Homo sapiens: one gene and its partner. The gene in region 1 interacts genetically with each later gene. Each region holds a gene or a part of one and is shown on either strand. Other genes may lie near its edges.

Region 1 (7,043 bases):
GTATACACAGACCATGAACTTTCTTTTTTTTTTTTTTTTTTTCCCAGACAGAGTCTTCGCTCTGTCGCCCAGGCTGGAGTGCAGTGGCACAATCTCAGCTGACTGCAAGCTCCGCCTCCTGGGTTCACGCCATACTCCTGCCTCAGCCTCCCAAGTAGCTGAGACTACAGGCGCCCACCACTGCGCCCAGATAATTTTTTGTATTTTTTGTAGAGACGGGGTTTCACCGTGGTCTCGATCTCCTGACCTTGTGATCCGCCCGCCTCGGCCTCCCAAGGTGCTGGTATTACAGGCGTGAGCCATGGCGCCCGGCCTACACAGACCATGAATTTTCTAACATTCAGTTCTTTAAAATAGATTTGTACACATTAAATGTGTACATATTTGTACTTACATATAGAGATCCATAGGAAACTCCTTCATCATGTGTGTTACAATAAACTCTACCATCAGGTCTGAAAGGGGAATAGAGAAAAACTGGATCAATTACAATGGAATTCATTTCTTGTCTTTGAGTTGGAAAAAAAGCTTCTGAGTACACCTTGCACTCACACTGAACGGCATCCACTAACCACATCTTTATTCATATACACTTATTTTATATAACGCATTTTGTGTAACACTGTTCACCACCTGCCACTTGTAAAGTAATAAGAAATTATTTCACTTGCTGACCTCCAGAAGGATACCCTGACCTGCCAATAAATTCAGATAAATGGAAAATTTCATTGTATAGATATTTCATCCCATGGCATTAATGCAGACTGCCAAAGGGAAATCATATTCTGAGACTAGACAATGAAGCAAGCTCTGAGAAGAAATTATGGATCACATTTGTGTAACCAGAGACTCAGCTCTAAAGCTATGTCAGTCAATCTCATCTTACTATCATGCTCAGTTAGACAGATATTGACTGAAATGGGCTGTGGGGCTTTGGGTCAAGAGAGGCTTATTATACAGCCTTAATTACTGTTTCTAAAATTAAGTAGATTTAGAAACTGGGGCTGAATATCCAAGTGAAATGGGATTAAGAATTCAGCTAATTCCCTGAGGAAAATGCAGAATTCTGGACAGACAAAATTACCCAAGATACAGCCCCCTACCTGTCAACTCAGTCAGCCTCATCTCAGTTTAATATACTCAGGGGAAGTTTTGTATATGTAAACCATGAACTTCAAGCCTCCTGGCCAGCCAGCACATCAATTCAAACCAAGAAAGGATGGGAAGAATTTGAAATCTTTTTTTTTTTTGAGATGCAGTCTCGCCCCAGCTGGAGTGCAATGCCGTGATCTTGGCTCACTGCAACCTCTGCCTCCTGGGTTCAAGCGATTCTCCTGCCTCGGCCTCCTGAGTAGCTGGGATTACAGGCGCACGCCAACACGACCAGCTAATTTTTGTATTTTCAGTACAGACAGGTTTTCACCATGTTGGCCAAGCTGATCTCAAACTCCTGACCTCAAGTGATCCGCCCACCTCAGCCTCCCAAAGTGCTGTGATTACAGGTGTGAGCCACTGCGCCCAGCCTGAAATCTTGATCATGTATCTTGTAAATCATGTATCAAGTTTAGACACAGCCATTTGTCTCACTGGAATGACTTTTTTCTTTGAACAACAGGACCCTTTTATTGACCACTCTATAACTGGGGTTGCTTTACCAAACACAACAATAAACATGATTCTTAGGCCAGGGAAAAAACACAACTAATAATTTATTTGCGGAAGAAGCACATCAAACAGGTTCTACTCTTCATCTTCATCATGAAAGCCTATCGCTGTCACAGAACAATGTCAATGTTGATGATACTCACTCACCCAGTACTGCACATACTAAAGGACGGCAGGGAAGATTCTTGTCTGCTGCCTTCTTCCTGTGTCTCATAGGCTTCACACCAAAAAAATGAAGAAAGGAAATTAGTAGACACCGGCACTGACATCCAATGGCCCATCATCATGTTCCTTGTGCAAATAAAATCACTATTACAGGGATACTTCCTTTTCTTTCTCTTTTTCACATGGTGGGAGAGGAATGAGGTAGCATGGGATGAGGCGGGGAAGGGAGGACTTGTGAATGCTTCAGTTATCAATGCACGCCTGTTACAAAATTACAATTCACAACCTCAAAGGGCACTAGAGAATACTACAATGGGAAAACTGTTGGTTTTACTTTGCTTTTAGTTATATAAGTGGCATTACTAACGACAAAAGAGGTACACTGGTGTTTTTCTTTGACGATAAATAATAATAATAAAAAAAAGAGGAAGTGATGGTGCCACCTATAGAAGCAGCAACAGTAGTAGTTGCAAAAAAATAAAGAAAGTTTTACATCTAAACCTCAATGTAATTTTTTTTTTTTTTTTGAGACGGAGTCTCGCTCTGTTGCCCAGGCTGGAGTGAAGTGGCACGATCTCGGCTCACTGCAAGCTCTGTCTCCTGGATTCGCGCCATTCTCCTGACTCAGCCTCTTGAGTAGCTGGGACTACAGGTGCCTGCCACCACACCCGGCTAATTTTTTGTACTTTTAGTAGAAACGGGGTTTCATCCTGTTAGCCAGGGTGGTCTCAATCTCCTGACCTTGTGATCCCGCCTTGGCCTCCCAAAGTGTTGGGATTACAGGTATGAGCCACCAAGCCCGGCCCTCAATGTGATATTTTTTAACATACCTCCAAGCTTTAAGAAATTCCCTGATCCTCCATATTCTATTTGCCCACTTCTCAGATGAACAAATCTGAGCAGCAGCTAGTCTTAGCCACTCAAAAATTATACTACATTTTGAAAACAAAAGGCTTAGAACCATTTCCTTGCTGAAACCTATATTATTGAAATCCAGTATCAGGCCAGGCGCGGTGGCTCACACCTGTAATCTCAGCACTTTGGCAGGCCAAGGCGGGCAGATCATCTGAGGTCAGGAGCTGGAGACCAGCCTGGCCAACGTGGTGAAACCCCATCTGTAACGAAAATACAAAAATTAGCCGAGCGTGGTGGCAGCCACCTGTAATCCCAGCTACTCAGGAGGCTGAGGCAGAAGAACTGCTTGAGCCCAAGAGGCAGAGGTTGCAGTGAGCAGAGATCACACCATTGCACTCCAGCCTGGGGGGGAGAGAGAGAGAGAGAGACTCTCCCTCAAAAAAAGAAAAAAAAAAAAAAAGAAATCCAGTATCATTGCCACGCTTGTGAATCTTCCAAAACTCTTGATTAAGAAACAGCTCCATGACACACAAAAATCCCAACAACAAGCATGGGTCTGTTGAACAGCCGTCATGCAAAGCCCTTTGGCACAACTTTCCACCCACATTTGTTCTAGTAAGATCAATTTCATCCCAACCCTGCCGACATACAAAAAATTTCCTCTAAGAAAAAACAAGAAGCAAAAGAAACACCTACCATTCTATGTAAGTTTACTCGAAAATTCATGTTGTCATCATGCAAAAATGCATTGGCATATTGATCCTAATAAAAATATAGAGAAAAAGTAAGAAGCGAGAGCTATATTTAAGAAACTGTAATCTATCACACTTCGTACAAATCCTTGGACTTTGAGAACTACTTTCAAGGATCAGCTGGACAGCTAATAGGATGAGCCTAGAGCCTTATGTCAAACCCTACTTAAGCCATGAGATTTTTCTTTAGTGTAATTTCCCAGTGTATCTCTAACTGGTCAAAAATTTCCAAGCAAAAACAATAAAAATTAAGACGCAGGGACTTAAGGCAGATGCTGAGAGGAATGAGAGTAATCTGTTTTCCTATTCCCTCTTCCGTCCCATCTGCCCAAGGAGCTGGCTCTGTTTGTGATAGTTTAAGGTTTTCACAGAGGCTGCAGGATTCATGTGCAGGCTCCACATGAGGGTTTAGGAGCAAGAAGAAAAATCTGTGCTCTGCTGGGAATGGGTTCAGCCCAACAGAAGCAAACTGCTACACAGGCAGCGTGGAAGCAGGCAAGACCCTGTCTATTCCGGGCTTTCCTGAAGACTGACAGAAAATCAAAAACCTCTTACCATGGATTAGTAATAAACATCCCTTGGCCCTTTCCCAATACCTTTTCTGAAGATCTGACAAGCCTACAGACTCCAATTACAAGGAACTGTTACAATTTGTGAAAAACAACTCCTTTAAAGATTTTCTTAGAAAGATTTTTGAAAAGCAATTATACCAGGCCCACTGCTAATAAGCAGCTCTTCCATAACCAGCCACCCCTAATCTTGTGAAAAGGAGGTCATCTTTCCACAGAGAACATGAAGAGAGAGAGACTGAGAGAGATCTCTACTTCATGTGGAATATCTTCACCATTTTTCTTAAGAGAGAAAAGAGCAGAGTGGGGAATAGTAAAGGGGGAGGTTGAAGCTATAAATTTAGCTCTAAACTCACTCAAGTTCTGCCATGCCTGTGTGTCACCAAGATACATGGTGAGTTTGAACCTAATTAGTCCAACCAAAAGTGGCTTCTTAAAAAGCCAAAGCATCTCTTCTTTTTTCCCCTCAGCTCTTGTTCCTCGGCAAACTGCAATTACTGAGTTTCCAATTCCCCTCTCTGGCTTTACTATCCACCCCTTCACCCCATCACAGGAAACCTGAGCTCCTTTTTTATTTTTTAAACTGCTCCACTGCCGAGCATGGTGGCTCACGCCTGTAATCCCAGCACTTTGGGAGGCCGAGGTGGGTGGATCACCTGAGGTCAGGAGTTTGACACCAGCCTGGCCAACATGGCAAAACCCCATCTCTACTAAAATTACAAAAATTAGCCGGGCAAGGTGGCACTGCCTGTAATCCCAGCTACTAGAGGGGCCGAGGCACGAGGATCGCTTGAACCTGGGAGGTGGAGGTTGCAGTGAGCCAAGATCATGCCACTGCACTCCAGCCTGGGCAACAGAGCGATACTCCGTCTCAAAACAAACAAACAAACAAACTGCTCCACAGTTTAAAAACACAGTGCTAAACAGCGTGGAAGCAGACAAGACCCTGTCTATCCATGGCTTCATCGAAGACTACACTCTAGTGGGAGAAGACAGATAATACAAAGGGGGAAGATTTTCTCTCCTAAACTTTAGGACCCTAAATGTCATGAGACAGTAATGGGGTGAGGGGAGGCAGGGAAAGATAGCACTTTGTAAAAGACTGCCTAATAGCAGAAGGCTCGTGAGACCTACCTCTGCAATACATGTAAGGATAATCAGACAGAGTTTGCCACTGTGAAGCCTGTGTTCATCTGTAAAGAAAAAAGAAACTCTTCTCTGTAAATCATCCAGATTTACATCATCTGTTTCAATACAGAACAAGGACGTATATCATAAAAGGAAACATTCACACTTTCTCTTCCCACAAAATCCATAAATGAAAATCAAGGTACTACTATAGTAATTCTTGCTTCCCTCCTAGGCAAAAGAATTCCCCCAGAAGATTTATTTTTTTAATATCCTGGTAGTCTGTTAAATGGCTAACCACCTTCCTGAAAGCCATCTAACTCACAATGGTTCCTACTGTCATGGCTCAAATAGTGGCCAGTACTCTCACATCAGCCCTTTGCTGATAGAACTTGAATAGTCAGGTCCATTTCCTTTTCCACCCACCCTCTCATCTGCCAGCTCTAAGCACCACCTACCACAAAATCTAGAAAGATTTCATGACTGCTCATAGCAAACTGGCAATGAAATCAAAAAGAAATTAACTGGAGACTAGGGTCCAGCCCACGCTTCTCCTTGCAATTGTATACTTATGCCCTAGAAAGCTGTGAACTCTTGATCATTTTTCTTCCTGTCAAAGTTACTCATTCAACAAATATTTACTTAGCACTACTATGTGGCAGGCACTGTGCAAGGCACTAGAGATATAGCACTGAATAAAACAGACAAAGGTCCCTGGTCTCTCACAACTCACATTCTAGTTATTAAAAAAGAAGAAGACAACCTCAGTAGCAGGGCTCTAAGCCCACACACAAAAGGACAAAAAAGAGCTAATCCATTACTGCCAAGTACGAGAACCCATCAAGCTTATGTTACTTTCCAGAAACTCTGTGGGTGAAGGAGTGAAAAGGAAGTAAGAAGAGGATCATGCCAGCATAGCCAAAACAGACAAATGGCTCATGATTTTCAAATTAGCTTCAACAGGACCCAGAATGAAGTCCAATCTAGAGAGAAGACCTCTTAATGGATTAGAGTGCTGTAGAAGTTAGCTATTACTATTTACCCTGACATTGACCTGCTTCTTTCTCAAAAATGGGATCTATCAATTAAAACCTGACAATTAGATGGCATAATGGGGATTACAATCCACAAATATACTCACATCTCCTCAGAGATAGGCAATGCAAAAAGAGTAATGGTGACAATCCCTATCTGACACTCCCTGGAGCTTCATCAAAGCCCCGATATAGCCAAAGAGTAATGCCCTTGCCTCCAGAAAACTAGATTCACAACTCTTCTACCCACCTTTAGCCAGTTTCTATGGCACTATCCTCCCACAAACTGATACGCAACTCCCACAGAAAAGCCTGCAGCTATCTCTCCACTTAAAATTTTTTTTAATTTTAAAATTAAAGTGTTTATGAATACAAAACTAGGCTTATTTCATTATAGACAGTCTTTTAAACTCTAAAAAAGCATATACACACAAAACAATGAAAATCAAATTTAATCATACCACCCAAATGTTATAACTGTTAAGACTTTGGTGAATCAACTTTAAGTCTATGCATAGATATACATGGTTTTTACAATTTTTTGCCTAGTATCTATTATAAAGGTTGAGCAGAAGCTTCTTTAAGGTGACACCACCAAAGTCAGAAAAATCCCAAGTAATAAAGGCTTTAAAAGCAGGGGAAAACCCAAGGGAATAGGGGCTGGGCTCAGTGGCTCACACCTCTAATCCCAGCACTTTGGGAGGCTGAGGTGGGATGATCACCTGAGGTCAGGAGTTGGAGACAAGCTTGGCCAACATGGTGAAACCCCTTCTCTACTAAAGATACAAAAATCAGCCAGGCGTGGTGGCATGCACCTGTAATCCCAGCTACTCAGGAGGCTGAGGCAAGAGAATCGCTTGAATCCACAAGGCAGA
Region 2 (4,994 bases), on another chromosome or scaffold:
CATATTGTGATTGTGTTCTTAATTCTCTTTTTAAGTGGATGTTCCCCCACCCTCTCCTTTTCCCTTCCTTGCAGTTTATTCATGGAAGAAATTTGGTTTTGTGGATTTTCTCACAATAATGATTTTGCTTATTACATCTCCATGGTTTAGTTTAACAGTTTCCTCTATTTCCTGTAGTAGCTGAATGTAAAGACTTGGTCAAACTCTAGCTAGATTTTATTGAGGGAGTTGGGGAAGACTGCTTCATAGGTGGTGGTAGTATATTTTTCCATCTAAAGGTACATAATGTCGGTTATCTAATTCTTTCTTTAAATGTTTTCTATGTTCACATGGTAATTTTAGCCATGGATTTCATGTTTTAGTTTCAAGATCCTGAGAAATCAACATCTGAGGAACAGCTAATATTTAAAATTAAAGGAAAATATATTTTCTCCACGAAGTTGGTTGTAACTTTTGGCAATTCTTCATCAGGTGATGAATGCAGTATTGGTTCAGCCACAGACTTGACTGAAAGTAGCTCCATGGTGGATGGCGACTGGACAATGGTGGATGAAAATTTCTCTACACTCAGTTTAACTCAGTCAGAGCTGGAGCACATTTCCATGGAGTTGGCCAGTAAAGGGCCTCATAAATCCCAGGTCCAGCTTCGGTGAGTTTCTTGGCTATTTGAAATCACAGAATGCCTACTCAGAGTATTTGGGCAAATAGGTATGGGGCTACTCTCCTAATAATCATTGCACTTCTGTACATCTTATAGATCTTTCTTAGCATAAATCATTTTGTTTCTGCTTATATTTAGGTATTTGCTACACATTTTCATGGAGGCAGGGTGCCTAGACTGGTGCATCGTTATAGGCCTGATTCTTAGAGAATCCTCAATAATCAATCAGATTTTGGTTATTACACAGTCTTCAGAGGTAGATGGAGAGATGTTACAGAACATAAAGACAGGGCTCCATGCAGTGGACCGATGGGCCTCTACAGACTGGTAAGTGCTGCTTTCCTTAGGCTTGGTGTCCTTCCATGTCTTTTGGTGAATCCTGTCCTTTCACATTAAGGCCTAGTTATGGTTCATGTGTTACATTTTATTTATTTATTATATATTATTTATTATATGTTCATTTTTAAGCTACTTTCTTTAGTAATCATTCTATACCCAGCTATTTAAATGGATAATTCCATCGAGTAAGGTTACACTGTTGGTCAGTGTATAATTTATAGTGTGAATGTATATCACTGACTTAAGATTGATGCAGTGCAAATGAGCTTAGAATTAGACTGGAACTTCAGATTTGCATCCCTGTGAAATTGAAAGCAATGGTCTACAAATATCTACTTGAAAAGATTCAAACTTAAGGTCCATGTGAATTTAACATTCCATGGCAGTTACAAGCAAATCCAAATTAGAGTTGTGGTTGCAGTTAAGAGCCTTGGACTCTAGCCCTGTCTTTATTACCAGTTAATGTGTGTATTTGGAGCTAGTTACTTCCCTTACTTGGATCTGGTTTTCCTTAATTGGCAAATGCATTTAGGTTAAATGTTGTCTGAAGGTCCTTTTTCAAGTCTAAGCTCCTGTTGGCCTTTCAATTGTAAAATATAATTTTTAGTTGTAATACTGGTTCTAAAACATCAGCCTTTGCCCCTAATGCTTAGAAACTTAAGCCTCAGGCTTATGCAATGTGCAGCCCCCTCTGCTGGGCAGGACAGCCAAGAAGCCTTTCCTCCCTACCTTCTTTGCCTCCTCTCTCCCCTCCTAATCTATCGTCGTCTTTACCATATCAATGTTCAGTAGAAGTTCACCCGTAATGTTCTACCAAACCTTTTGAATTATGGCAGATGAGCTAATGTTTTTTTTCTCTACATAGTCCTGGATATAAGCCATTTTTAAACATCATTAAGCCACAACTGCAGAAGCTCAGTGAGATAACAGAAGAGCAGGTCCAGCCAGATGCCTTCCAACCAATAACTATGGGTAAGACTCCAGAACAGACTAGCCCCCGGGCAGAGGAGAGCAGGGGCTCCTCCAGCCATGGAAGCATCCCCCAGGGTGAAGTTGGAAGCAGCAATATGGTCAGCCGGAAAGAGGAGGACACAGCCCAAGCAGAGGAGGAAGAACCTTTTCAGGATGGGACTTACGACTGTTCTGTGTCCTAACAGTGAGGTTCCATCACAAAGGGGCAGTATTAATTAGCAGCAGCGTGCAGCTCAGTACGTTGTAACATAGTTGGATGATTTAACAGGAGAACTCAGTTCAGAGACTCTTCGGTAAGTATTAGTAGATTTTAACTAATTCTTTCTTGTCTAAGAAATCTTTTTGACTCCATAAAAATGTGATATAAAGCATCTTTCATAAAAAAATTTTAAGCTGCAGTGAAAAGTAAATATTGTACAGATGTACATGAGAATATTTTGGTTTTACTCAAAGGTTGGTAGCTCTTAAACCACAGGAATTGTTTTGCCCCAGGTGAGCTTACTTTTTCACTACTTACATCTTCTCACATTTCCCGGTTCTGCATTATGTCCAGATTGCTTTTTAAAAAATAAATGCTAAGGTGCTTGCTATAGTCTGTCAGGTACTTGAGCTACCTGTTTGCTCCCTTGGATACAGCTGGACTCTTTAATCAGTCCTCCTGAATAGATTGCTACCCTGGGGCACAATATGTGCCAGTGTGATGGAAACATTCTCCTTGGCTTTACTAGCCAGTCAAATCCCAGTCCAGAATTGATGGAAGCTATTTACCTGTGAGTTAATGTGCTTGTTTTAGCAAGCTTGATTCCCATTAGACCAATGTGGGCAGAGGTCTGAGGGGGTTCTTCTCAATTTTGCTGTTAGATACCACTAAACTATTTTGTATTAAAGAACAGTATCTTTTTGTGAATACTCTTGTGTAAATATATTCAAAGGCACTGTTCATATTTTAGGGCTTGTATTATAATTTGCAAGGTTTTAATGCTGGATTCTGCATGTCTACACATACAAAGACAGGGCTTGCTCCTCTGCAAAACTGAGGAAGACAGGTTTATTGGCTTGGTCATGAAGTAACAGAAATGGTCACACTGATCATGAAATGCAGCAAGTTTTGTGCAAATTAACATAGTCTCTTATTTATTGCTTTTGTAAATTGAATAAAGATGGACTTCTATGTAAATAGACTGCTGAATCCTGTATTACCACGGCTACTAAAAATTAGTGTGTAAAGAATGCATTCTTCATTGTAAACTTAAAGTATTTTATGTACTTCTAGAAATGACTTAAATTTGTTTTCATACATTATGAAAACAACTGCATACTCCTTAATTGCTTTAAACACCCATCCACTGTATGTAATTCTAATTACCTTATAACAGTATTAAGACAGCTTGTTTGTACTGTGCAATTTGAACAAGGAATGCAATGTTATTTTTTACAAAAAACAAACTTGTTTATTTTTATAATAACGATGTATTTGATGTGGACCAAATTCGTACCACTATCTAAAATAGCCTCTTTTCTCATAGTGCAGTTGTAGTTTAGAAACAAAACTTGGTCCTCTCTCCTTGCTTTTTAAAGTAAATGGCTAGATTTAGTTGTCTTAGCCAGGTTTCCTTTGAAGAGAAACTCAAAACCATTTTGAAACTGCTTAGTTCAGAATACATCGAAGTATTTAAAATTACTGAGTTGGGTAATTTACTATCATTTACTTTTTACATTACAAGTGCAATAATATTTCACAAAATGAAACTCCCGAATGGGTGGAGTATGTGATTATTGGTACCTGGTCCTTCTGGTGCTATTTTTATTTAAGTCTTTGTTTCAAACCACCTTTCCCTGAATCTTAAAGATAATGTTTTGCATGTGAGTACATGCAGCCCAGCAAGAAACTAAACTGAACTCTCTTCTCCTATCCTAGTCCATTAAGGAGAAGAACCAGCATTGCTTTTGTGTTTGGTGTGAATATTCAGTCAATAAAAATGATTTACCATTATAAAGAGCTGTGATCTTTTCAAGTATCTGAAATAAAACACTGTGCTGCTGAGTTCATCTCAAACATTCTTGAAAGCAGGGCACCAGTATAAGTTAACTGTATTCCTGTGGGTTAGGCCGTGAATGAATCATTTCTTTTATACAATATTCTTTTACAACTAATAGAGATAGGAGGCCCCCAGGCAAGAAGTTTGGCAGGTTTACAGAAAATTTGGTAATTTATTTGTTATATACCTTAATTTTTAAAAACCCATTTTTATTGTGGTGTTTGGTTCACATATCAACTGTTTAAGCCATAATTTTAGCCAATGAATTTAAATATTCAGTATAACTATTTGAGGTTTACTAGATGCATTTATTAATAAATTATTTGCTGAAACCAAAACAAGTCATTGGGGGTGTGGGAATAAAATCAACCTTTGCTTGTAATTAAAGTTGCTGCTATTTCTGTAATGTGTATTTTTCTCCCCTTGGTAAAGGGCAATAAAACCATTACACAAACTTTGGTTTATTCATCATCTCAGGTTAACAGCCACGAAAATCATCTTTTCATTATATAATTCTGCTTCTTAGAATTTTCCTTATGAAATGAAATTCAGACAGATTTATTTAAAATATTTATTTATATGTAGATTTAGAATGACAGCATCAAGAGTTCGCAACATCCTAGATGCCTGACAGTAAAATACTGGAGGAAACAGCCCATGTCGATGACATGGAAAATGTTCAAAATATAATGAAGGAATGACAGAAAATTATGTATACCTTAAGATACCTACCAAGCAAACAAAATTTTACATGTAAGTATAGAGGAACCTAGGCGTCATTTCTAATAAGCGGGATTAAAAAGTACTTTGACTTTTTCCCATTTTCCTAATTTCAGTCTCCATGGATTTGCCTATTCTGGACATTTCATATAAATGGAAACATATAGTATGTGAACTTTTCTATCTCACTTCTTGGCACCAAAGCATGTTGTTATTTTGGCTGTAGCCATCCAAGTTGTATATGAAGTAGTGTCTCATCATAG

Evidence for each region.
Region 2: changes in ARMH3 (region 1) and RIC1 are lethal when combined (synthetic lethality), as found in Homo sapiens cells (one study listed by BioGRID).

Annotation. Positions count from the first base shown.
Region 1 is NC_000010.11:101,990,157-101,997,199, forward strand, and holds part of ARMH3 (armadillo-like helical domain-containing protein 3), read right to left. Parts: intron 5,200-7,043; coding exon 5,141-5,199; intron 3,448-5,140; coding exon 3,382-3,447; intron 1,883-3,381; coding exon 1,813-1,882; intron 456-1,812; coding exon 395-455; intron 1-394. UniProt on the Homo sapiens protein: Involved in GBF1 recruitment, Golgi maintenance and protein secretion.
Region 2 is NC_000009.12:5,772,093-5,777,086, forward strand, and holds the end of RIC1 (guanine nucleotide exchange factor subunit RIC1), read left to right. Parts: intron 1-471; coding exon 472-649; intron 650-799; coding exon 800-988; intron 989-1,865; coding exon 1,866-2,154; 3' UTR 2,155-4,465; downstream 4,466-4,994. UniProt on the Homo sapiens protein: The RIC1-RGP1 complex acts as a guanine nucleotide exchange factor (GEF), which activates RAB6A by exchanging bound GDP for free GTP, and may thereby be required for efficient fusion of endosome-derived vesicles with the Golgi compartment.